Homo sapiens: one gene and its partners. The protein of the gene in region 3 purifies or fractionates together with the protein of the main gene of each other region. This does not show direct contact. Each region holds a gene or a part of one and is shown on either strand. Other genes may lie near its edges.

The links.
Region 1: the proteins of FAM111B (region 3) and MACROH2A2 purify together in Homo sapiens (co-immunoprecipitation; one large-scale study listed by IntAct). This does not show direct contact.
Region 2: the proteins of FAM111B (region 3) and ZNF346 purify together in Homo sapiens (co-immunoprecipitation; one large-scale study listed by IntAct). This does not show direct contact.

Annotation. Positions count from the first base shown.
Region 1 is NC_000010.11:70,108,193-70,111,845, reverse strand, and holds part of MACROH2A2 (core histone macro-H2A.2), read right to left. Parts: intron 2,814-3,653; coding exon 2,639-2,813; intron 329-2,638; coding exon 163-328; 3' UTR 1-162. UniProt on the Homo sapiens protein: Variant histone H2A which replaces conventional H2A in a subset of nucleosomes where it represses transcription. Nucleosomes wrap and compact DNA into chromatin, limiting DNA accessibility to the cellular machineries which require DNA as a template.
Region 2 is NC_000005.10:177,046,655-177,050,307, reverse strand, and holds part of ZNF346 (zinc finger protein 346), read right to left. Parts: intron 1-3,653.
Region 3 is NC_000011.10:59,113,631-59,117,283, reverse strand, and holds part of FAM111B (serine protease FAM111B), read right to left. Parts: intron 1-3,653. UniProt on the Homo sapiens protein: Serine protease.

The DNA of each region.
Region 1 (3,653 bases), on a different chromosome or scaffold from region 3:
TTTTGGAGGAGAGTGTGAAGGGCAGAGGGCTCCCTGCGCCGGCAGGACCTGCCCGGCCACCCTCCACTCCCCTGCCATCACCCCTCCTCTCTCCTTTTAAAAAGCAAAACCCCACTCTTGGGACTCGGGTCGTCCTCCGATCCCTGCTGGAAAGTGCGGCGGCTACTTGGCGTCGAGCTTGGCCATCTCCTGCACGTAGATGCCGATGCTCTCGCTGTCGAAGAGCAGGAAGTACACGTTCTTCAGCGAGGACGCGCTCGAGTCATCAAAGTGGGCTGAGATGGCTTTGAGGGTCACCTGGGCCGCAGTCTGTTTGGGAAAGCAGTTTCTGTGCCAAAGCAAAAGAAGAGCCGATGTCATTTTGGTCCCTGGGACCCATGGGAGCATGAAGTGCCTTTGTTTTTACTGGGTGGGGCCTTGCTGTGTGCAGGGCTAGTCCATGCATGATCTCCTTTGACCCTAGCCAAAGGGACAGCCTGGGGGTGGCAGGTGGGGCATGTTGCCCCCACTTTATAGGTGTCACACTGACTCGGAGAGGCACAATGATTTAATTTGATTAAATTAATTTATTTGTTTTGGGATGGAGTCTCTCTCTGTTGCCCAGGCTGGAGTGCAGTGGCGCGATCTCAGCTCACTGCAACCTCCACCTCCCGGGTTCAAGCGATTCTCCTGCCTCAGCATCCCAAGCAGCTGGGACTACAAGTGCGCACCATCATGCCTGGCTAATTTTTGTATTTTTAGTAGAGACGGGGTTTCACCATGTTGGCTAGGCTGGTCTTGAACTCCTGACCTCAGGTGATCCGCCTGCCTCGGCCTCCCAAAGTGCTGGGATTACAGGTGTGAGCCACCGTGCCCTGCCAAGCACAATGATTTTAGTCAAGGTCACAGGGCTGGCCAAGTGAAGAGTGCCCTGTATTTTATTTTTTATTATACTTTTTTTAAATTAGTTTTTTTTTCAGAGGCAAAGTCTTGCTCCATCACTCAGGCTAGAGTGCAGTGGTGTGATCATAGCTCACTGCAGCTTCAAACCTCTGGGCTCAAGCTATCTGTCTTCTGCCTCAGCCTCCTCAGTAGCTGGGACTAAAGGCGTGTGCCTATAAAAAAATTTTTTTTTTTAAATTTTTTGTAGAGATGGGTCTTGTTATGTTGCCCAGGCTGGTCTCGAACTCCTGGCCTCAAATGATCCTCCTGCCTCAGCCTCCTAAAGCTTTTGGATTTACAGGCGTGAGCCACCGTGCCAGCTCCCTATATTTGATTCTATGTCACCTGACCAAGTCAAGCTTGGCTTTAAAAATGCTAGCCATTCAGCATTAAAAATACCTGGTCTTCAAACAAGCAAACAGAAGTTTTATTAGCTCCCTCCAAACTGGTTTATATACTAACCCAATTGCTTAGTAAAGGGCAAAAATGTATGCTCCAAACCTGTCTTCGTAAGTCCTTTTTTATGCACTTAATATTTCATAGGCACAGGCCCATGTAATTTCAGCATTGTGACTCCGGGCATGGCGGGGTTAATGAAAGTTTGTTAAAGGCCCCAGGTTCCAGGGAGCTACTGATAGTGCCATCCACCAGGCTGGGCCACAGCACCAGCTTCCAGGGACACAGCCAGAATGGTCGTTAGGGGTCAGCCACAGAGACCCCTGGAGCAGGTCCAGGAGGGGCCTGTTAATAGGAATTCTTCCCAATCGCATGTATTCCAGCACAGAACAGCACTGCCGTGGTTCCACCGACGAAAGAATGCATCTCACAGCATCTCTGGGCCTGGAATGCTGAGACTCAATGCTGCTTGCCTAGGTTGATGTGTGATTACAGCAGGAACCTAGGTCTCATTATTTTCCTCTTGGGCTTCCCAGGACACAGCTATAAACCATAGCTATATTATAAAGGACAGCTCTCAAGGTGAGAGGGTGTTCAAAATTAAAGCAATAGATTGGCTAGGGGCATGAAGGGAAAGGATATGTTTTATGTGACAGCAGATATCCTCATTATGTATCTGAAACAATGCCCAGCTGGGATCTGTGACAATCCAGTCATTGCCCAGTCTCCTTTTCAGCAATCACTCGGGGACAGATTTTCACTTCTCTGGGTGTATTCATCAAAGCCTCGAACTCCTGGCTCTGCAGTCTCCCAGAGCAGCAACGGAATTCTCTGGGGATTCTGGAGCCAGAGGTCGGAGATGGGGGGCCTGAGATTCTGCATTCTGACATCGGTCACTGCTGCCTATGGACCACACTTTGAGTAGCAAGGCCTTCGAGCCTGGCGTTTTCTGATCATGTGTCCTGGACATGGACAGCTGGTGGGAATATGGACTTTGAACCTGGAAGGCTCTCAAAAAATAACACACCAGCTGGCCTCTGCCTCCCGCTCCTCCCCTGGGCTAGCCTTCCTCCTGGGGCTTTAACATCAAGGAGGCACTGGGGCTGGCCCCAGCCGGGGAAGACCTGCTGCCTAGGAGCCAGTGGGCTCGCTTCCCCATGGTTTCTGAAGGATGAAAACCGGGTTTCCTGCCCTGTCATCTGGTCAGCATACTTGGCTGTGCTGGCAGCCCTTGGCAACACCCAGATCAGATGTAAGTGGGGGAGCAGCTGATTTCCAGGGAAAAAGCCGGAGGAATCAACTCAGGGGAACTGCATCTTACCTGCCGCTGGGGAAAGGCGGGAACGCGACGGACTTTAGCTTCTTGTCCTCCGCCGCTGACAGGCAGTTTTTGATGGTCTCTTCAAGCTGTTCTTCACATTTGTCGGAGCCCCACTGAGGGATGTGACAGTGGATGACAAATTTGGCTGCGAGTCCACTGGATTGGCTGACGGCGGCTGGGACATAGGAGAGAAAATGCCGCGGGTTATTTCCTAAGGTTTCCTAGGTTATAGCCTAACCTCATCAGGTACCTGTTAGATCTGGAGATAAGGCAGTGATAGAGACGTTGGCTGGGCAGCATCCTGTGCTCCTGATGTGGACTATGTTTAACGAGAGCAAGAGCTGGGCTGTATTGCTTTGCACAGTTAGCACAAGCTTTGGGTAGAAGCGTTTAATGCTGCTCTGATGCGCCATTTTCATATGGTCTGCCAAGTAGTCCCTGGGTTGGGCTACCTCCTCACAATGGTTCCTAGTTAAAGGGACACATCAGATCCTCTCTGGTGGCTGTGGCAGGTAAAGTAATGGCATCCCAAAACATCCACGTCCTCCTCCCTGAAACCTGTGGGTGTTCCCGTACATGGCAAAAAGGACTTTGCAGATGTGATTAAGTGAAGGCTCTTGAGATGGGGAGATGATCCTGGACTGTCTGGGTGAGCCTGGGACCTGATAAGAGGGAGGCAAGAAGGTCAAAGGCAGGAGAAGGCCGTGGGATGAAGGAGACAGAGATTGGAACGATGCAGCCAGGAGCCAAGGAATGTTGCAGCTTAGAAGCTGGAAAAGGCAAGGAAGGGATCCTTCCCTGAGCCTCCAGAAGGAACCAGCCCTGCCAACACCTGGATCTTAGACTCTTAAAACTCATTGTGGACTTCTGGCCTCCAGAACTGTAAGAAGACAAATTTGTGTTGTCTGAAGCCACGAACTTTGTGGTAATTTGTTACAGTAGCCACAGGAAATGAATACAGTGGCTTTTATTTTTATTTTTTTATTTTTAGTTTTTTTTTGAGACAGAGTCTTTT
Region 2 (3,653 bases), on a different chromosome or scaffold from region 3:
CTTAAAGTAATACAGTTGCAGAGCTGGGAACAAATGCACAGATACAGAAATTGAGGCTTGAGTTCCTGGAGCTCATACAAGGTCATTCAGAAAAGGTAACCATACTAGGGATGCCTTTTAGGCTACATTGCATATTATAGGCTGAGTAGAGAGAAAAGAGGACCATTAACATTTAGTTATGCGTTTTGCTCACATCTGTAATCCTAGCACTTCAGGAGGCCAAGGCAGGCGGATCACGAGGTCAAGAGATTGAGGCCATCCTGGCCAACATGGTGAAACCCTGTCTCTCCTAAAAATTCAAAAATTAGCTGGGCATGGTGGCGTGTGCCTGTAATCCCAGCTACTTGGGAGGCTGAGGTAGGAGAATCACTTCAACCCAGGAGGCGGAGGTTGCAGCGAGCCGAGATTGCGCCACTGCACTCCAGCCTGGGCGACAAGAGCGAAACTCCACCTCAAAAAAAAAAAAATTAGTGATGTGTTTTCTACATATATTTTCTCCTTTGGTCCTCAGAACTACCCCAATGAGGTAGGTATCACTTTGCCACATTATTCAGAAAAACTGAGGCTCAGATGAGTGAAGTGGCTTGCCCAAGGTGACCCAGCCAGTGAGTGAAGCCAGGTCTGTGACCCTAAAGCCTGTGCTCTCTTTGCTATGCCAGGCTGCCAGTGTGGCAAGAAGACCTGAAGGCTATAGCTCTTACTTACGCCTTCAGAAAACATCCCTGATTCTGGCCAATGAATTCAGTGAATCAGAGCCTGGTATAGGCATACATGCGAGCCTCTTGTGCATCAACATATGGCTTGATGTTGACTCTAGGCTGCGCTGCTGCCTCATAAAGCGGATGCCACGACTCACTAACAAGTCCATGTGGCTGAAATGGTGTCAACCTAGCAACTACTGCTTTAAAAATGTGGGGCCCAGAAGCCCCCACCAGTGGTGGAGGACTGATGGGGCTCAGCAGGACTCACAGATGATATGTCTCAGATGCTCTTCCATACCTGTATCACTTCAACTGGGGAAGTTTTGAGGATTTTGGGCAAGCCAGAAGAAATTTGCTGGCCTTTCCCACAATGGTTTTTCTAGTATAGGGAATTTCAGTTTCTCTGCTTGTTGATTTTGTTTCAGCAAGTCATCAAAAAAGTAATGTACATGTTGTAGAATATTTTATAATATGAGAAAATATTCTGTTTGTGGTGTTGAGTGTAAAAAAAGCAAGTTACAGGCCAGGCGCAATGGCTTGTGCCTGTAATCCCAGCACTTTGGGAGGTTGAGGCAGGCAGATAATCTGACTCAGGAGTTCTGAGACCAGCCTGGCCAACATGGTGAAACTCAGTCTCTACTAAAAAAATACAAAATTAGCTGGGTGTGGTAGTGCATGCCTGTAATCCCAGCTACTCAGGAGGCTGAGGCAGGAGAACTGCTTGAACAGGTGGGCGGAGGCTGCAGTAAGCTGAGATTGCGCCATTGCACTCCACTCTGAGCGAAAAGAGTGAAATTCTGTCTCAAAAAAAAAAAAAAAGAAAAAAAAAGAAAAAAACAAGTTACACATCAATCTGCTTCTTATGTCCTCAATTTTATAGAACAACAACAAACGCATAGGTGACAGCATGGAAAAAAGATCAAAAGCACAGAGAGTAGAGTGTGTTTCACTATTTTCCGACTTTTCCTTTCTTTTTTTTCTTTTTGAGATGGAGTTTTGCTCTTGTTGCCCAGGCTGGAGTGCAATGGCACGATCTTGACTCACTGCAACCTCTGCCTCTGGGGTTCAAGCGATTCTCCTGCTTCAGTCTCCGAAGTAGATGGGATTACAGGCATACGCCACCATGCCCAGCTAATTTTGTATTTTTAGTAGAGATGGGGTTTCTCCATGTTGGTCAGGCTGGTCTCAAACTCCTGACCTCAGGTGATCCACCCGCCTCAGCCTCCCAAAGTGCTGGAATTACAGGCGTGAGCACCCGGCCTACTATTTTCCAACTTTTCTGTAATGAATGTAGATTTTTAACATCAGAAAAGAGGTATAATGGTTGTTAAGAGAGAACGGTCATTCTTTGAGATACTGAACAGAAGCATCAGAAGTGAAAGTGTAAGTAAGTCTAGAACCATTTAATGCGCATCCAATAAAATGAGGGATATAGAGTCTGTTCTCAGAAAATAACCTGAAATGTAATAAAGTGTTCTACAGAGATGTTCACTGTAGTGTTATCTGTAACACCAAAAAGTGGGGGGTGGGGAGATTAAATGTTCAGCATTAGACGAATATTAAATGTAGTACGATGCAGTCACTAAAAATGCTTATAAAGAATTTTTTAATAACATGGGGAAATACAAATGTCATATTAAATAAAAAACATATAGAAGGCAATTGTATGGCCAGGTGCGGTGGCTCATGTCTGTAATCCTAGCACTTTGGGAGGCAGAAGCGGGTGAATCACCTGAGATCAGGAGTTAGAGATCTGCCTGGCCAACATGCCGAAACCCCATCGCTAGTAATACAAAAATTAGGCAGGGCACGGTGGCTCATGTCTGTAATCCCAGAACTTTGGGAGGCTGAGGTGGGTGGATCACCTGAGGTCAGGAATTCAAGACCAGCCTGAGCAATATGTTGAAACCCTGTCTCTATTAAAAATGCAAAAATTAACTGGGCGTGGTGGCAGGTGCCGGTAGTCCCAGCTACTCAGGAGGCTGAGTCAAGAGAATTGCTTGAACCCAGAGGGTGGAGGTTGCAGTGAGTCAAGGTTGCACCACTGCACTCCAGTCTAGGCGACAGCAAAACTCCATCTCAAAAAAACAAAAAAACAACATTAGCCGGGTATGGTGGTGGGCACCTGTAATCCCAGCTATTCAGCAGGTGGAAGCAGGAGAATTGCTTGAACCTGGTGGGGCAGAGGTTGCAGTGAGCTGAGATTGCGCCATTTCACTCCAGCTTGGGCAAAAGAGGGAGACTCCATCTCAAAAAAAAAAAAAAACAAAAAACAAACAAACAAAAAAGGCAATTGTACATACCATACGGTAAGATCATTGTTTGAGGCCAGGAGTTCAAGACCAGCCTGGGCAACATAGTGAAACCCCGTCTCTAATAAAAACACAAAAATTGGCCAGGCGCGGTGGCACGCGCCTGTAGTCCCAGCTACTTGGGAGGCTGAGGCAGAAGAATCGCTTGAACCCAGGAGGCGGAGGTTGCAGTGAGCCGAGATCGTGCCACTGCACTCCAGCCTGGGTGACAGAGCAAGACTTCATCTCAAAATAAATAAATAAATAAATAAATAAATAAATAAAAATAAATAAAAAAATTTTAAAAACCCCACACGTGTAATCCATATGTGCATACTGGTATTTTAAAACATCACCAACATATTAACAGTATTTCTCTCTTGGTGTAGGATTTAGGTGATATTTTACTTTCTTCTTTGTATCTTTTGCAATTGTTTGAAGTGGAATTATTCATAATGAGTATGCATTGTTTTTATAAAAACATGAAAGTTATTTAAAGTAGTCTATGTTTATATGCACATATACACGGAGTTAACCTAGATATACACAAAACGAATATACACACAGATATACAAAGATACATATAACAATAAGATTATAGGAGAAACAGATTATAGGAGAAACCAAAATGTTAACAGTGTTTATCTGTGAATGGTAAAAT
Region 3 (3,653 bases):
TGGAAGGAGGGTCTAGGGATAGCAAATTCCAACTCAAACATGTCTCTTCCTTTCCAAGGTTGTGGGAAAGTATGTGGTAGTGATGGTGGGTTTTCTGCTTAAGGTATAGCAAGATCTCTAACTAAATAGGGTAAATGAAATATCTGGCTCATTCAGAGGGCAGGCAGCTCCCCTGTGACTTTACCCAAAGACATTCAAAGCAACTGCACGTAGTTTGTTTTCCCTCTAAGTGAGAAAGGGGTAAGGTTACAATTGTGTGTGCATCTCCCATTGAGATGTTCACCTGATTCTATCACTGCCTCAGAGACCTGGTAAAAATCCTGGGGCTTGTCAAATGGAGAAAGGGATGCCCAGGTCCAGAAGGGCTTTGCCCATGACCTCTCACGTTCAGAGTCTACTGGAGAGCCAGGACTCCACCTGCCTGACAGTCCCAGTCTGGGTCTGAGTTCTTGCCACCATTCTGCATCAGAATCACCTGGGGGTTTCTTGAAACAAAGATTGCTGAGCCCTAACCCAGAGGATCTGACTTAATATATCTGGGTTGAGGCTGCAGTTTGTGTTGATTCTGCCATCCTAGGGTCCAGGCTTTGAGAACCCCTGACTTAAGGCAAAGGACAGCTGACCAGGCCTAGCTACCTTAGCTCCTGTCTACTCTGAGGCCTTTCCTTGATGGCCCTCAACTGCCTTCTCCTCAGTTAAGAGTCCTAGAAGCCAGTCACTCTTCCCTCTATAGCTCTGGGCTCCAGAAGAGGGGCTCAAATGGAAAAGGAGGACCTGGCTCTTTTGAATGTCCCTTCACTGAGCCCTAGAATGCTCTGTGGAAAGGGCCTTTGGGACACAGAATTTCACCTTACCAGGAGGGGAGTGTCTAGAATTAAAATTAGAATAAATTATTGGATTGGGTAATCTGCACTCACTGTATGCGTTGTAAGAGTTCATGTGTGGTCAGGCATATTTGGAGATGCCTGTTACTCTTTGTTGGTAAGAATAAAAGAGTTTTGAATCAGCAGAATTTAGAGCAACATGTTCTGTCAGCAAGTTACCTAGAGAAGCAGAAATGACTGAGGAATAATAAGGAGGAAGTGACTAAGGCCCAGGACACAAGCAAGAGTCTAGGTGGAATCTGAGTAGAGATTCTAAGATTCTGGAGTCTTCTATGTACCTTCTCAGTCTCGAGGCCTTGGGGCAGAGCAGGAATTGACCACATTCACAGCATTCCCAAAGTGAGATTATGCCCAACCCCTGTCAAGATAGCCAAAGAGGCAGATAATGCACCGGGAGGTAAATATCCAAGTGAAACAGAGTAGGGACGGGACTCTGCCTCCACCACTAATAATGCATTTTTCCACACCCGCTGACTACCAGAACTTGCACCTCCACTGGTGCCATCCTCACTGGCTGTAAGACCTTAAAGAAACTAAGATAAGAAGCATTCTACCATAAATCTCATTCAAGGGAGTTAACTTTATTGCTTGCATGCACACAGGACTTTACCTCATTGCTTGCCTCATTATAATGTGAAAATCCCCACCCAGGGAGGGGCTTATCCACCATTTTTTGATCATGTGATGTAAGTACTAACATGATATCTCACTGGGCCTGCACACTCTACACTCCACCCAACACATGCAATGATATTAGCATACATCATGCTTTTCATGTCACCATGTTTAAAACAGCAAAAAGACCTCTCCTTGGGGAGCCATCTGGAGAACTCTCACTCCAGTGCTGTCTCCCTTGTATTCAAGAATAAGCCCCTAATAAAGCCTTGTCTGGGAAACTCACTTGGCCTTGTGTCAATTTCTATTGCATGGGAGACTAAAAACTTGTGGCTGGTAACACAAGAAGCTGGGTGTTTTAGTGTGATGGATGCCACAACAGTGGCAAAGATGGGGAACTGGATGACAGGGTGGGACCTGCAGGTGTTAAAAGCAGAAACAGCATGGATATGAGTAGTGGGTTCTGGAACAGCACAGAACCTTCCTATTCCTTGACTTTCTGTAACTTTTCTCCAGATTGTAACAGACTCAACCCTTGTCTTTCCCTGGCCCCTACTTCTAAGCCTGGCCAGGATTGGGGAAAGAAGAATAGCATAAAGAAAGAGAGAAAGTGGCCCCCATCCCACCTCTCTGACCCCTCTTGTCTGATGAGGAAAACCCAGGCATGTTCCTTAGAGAATTCCAAGTCTAATGGAAGGGACACAGGTACTGATTAGTGAGTCAACAAGCACTAGACCTATTGGTCAGTCAACAAGCACCCTCCCATCTCTGAACCTTTGTACTTGCTGTTTTCTCTATCTTCAATGTTGTTCCTCTAGATATTTCCATCTAGGACTCACCTCCTCACTCCTTTCAGGTCTCAGATATCACCTTATCAGAGAAGCCAATTATCATCACTTCCAAAACAGCCTCCGCCATTCTCTTTTCCCTTCTGCCCATATCAAAACACACACACACACGTGCATGCACACACACAAACACACACAATTTATTTTTCCTTTCTCCCTCTACAGTGTCAGCTCCAAGAGAACAAGGATACCACTGTATTCACTGGTATATCCTTGGTACCTGTGACGTACCAGGCACGTAGGTTTGCAAGAAATGTTCATTGAATAAATGATCAAAGTGATTGAATGAATATCTACTATGTACTCACCACTGTCCTGGCCAATTAGAGACAAGGAAGAAAAAGGCGAAGTTCCTGTCAGTGCTAAGGTGCTTGGGTTTTAGGGTCAAAACCTACTTGTCATTTCTGCTCCCTCTCTGGCCTCCACAGTTTAAGCCCTACATTCTCCATCTCTCTTTTCCTTCACACCTCTCATCCACTCCATCCCCTCCTCTCTGCCCCTTCAGCTCCCAGTCTCAGGCCACTGCAGGCCCCCTCCTCTTTAGCCTGGATGTTTTTGGAATAGCCTCCACTCTCAACTCTTCTATCCCTTCAAGCATCTTCCCATCCCCTCTTTTCCAAGGCCCATGGGGCTAGAGTGTTCTGGCCCCTGTCCACCCCTCCCTCTGCCCCACCTTCTGCTGCTCAGCTCCTCTCCCCTTGGTCCCAGCTACAGTGATCACTCAGGCCCTGGACAGGAAGCCTTAGCCATTCTCAGGGCTTGTGCATTCACCATTCTGTCTGGCCTTCCCTTGGGTGTCTTCAGGGCCACTTCAGAGGCCTCTTGACTTCCCTAGCCGGAGCAGCACTCCAAGGCACACACTTGCCACTTTCTGTTACCTTTGTATGTTCTTGATCCACTAGCGAAAACTTTCTATTTGTCTGTTTCCTGGATAATCTCTTTCACTCTTTAAAATGTAAGGTTCACAAGAGCTGGGACTCTGTCCTTCTTTCACATGCCTAGTCCCTAAAGTAGAAGCTGGTCAGTAAAGTTTGCCGAGGGGCCAGGTTTCAAATGCATTCTGAACAAATGCCTCCCCTCTGTTTTCTGTCAAATTGGAAAACACTTCCCTCTAGGTGTGGTGAGACTCCCATAAGATGTGTCTAATGTGCCGGGCAGACTGTTGCATCTGGCATACATAAGTCCCAATAACTTATGATCTTGACCATCCAGTTTCCAGGGGACTCTAAGTCTGGGGGACGCTGATAGAGACGTGACTCCATCTGTGCAGAGCTTTTGTCTGGGGAGGGAGATTCCAGTGCTAGAG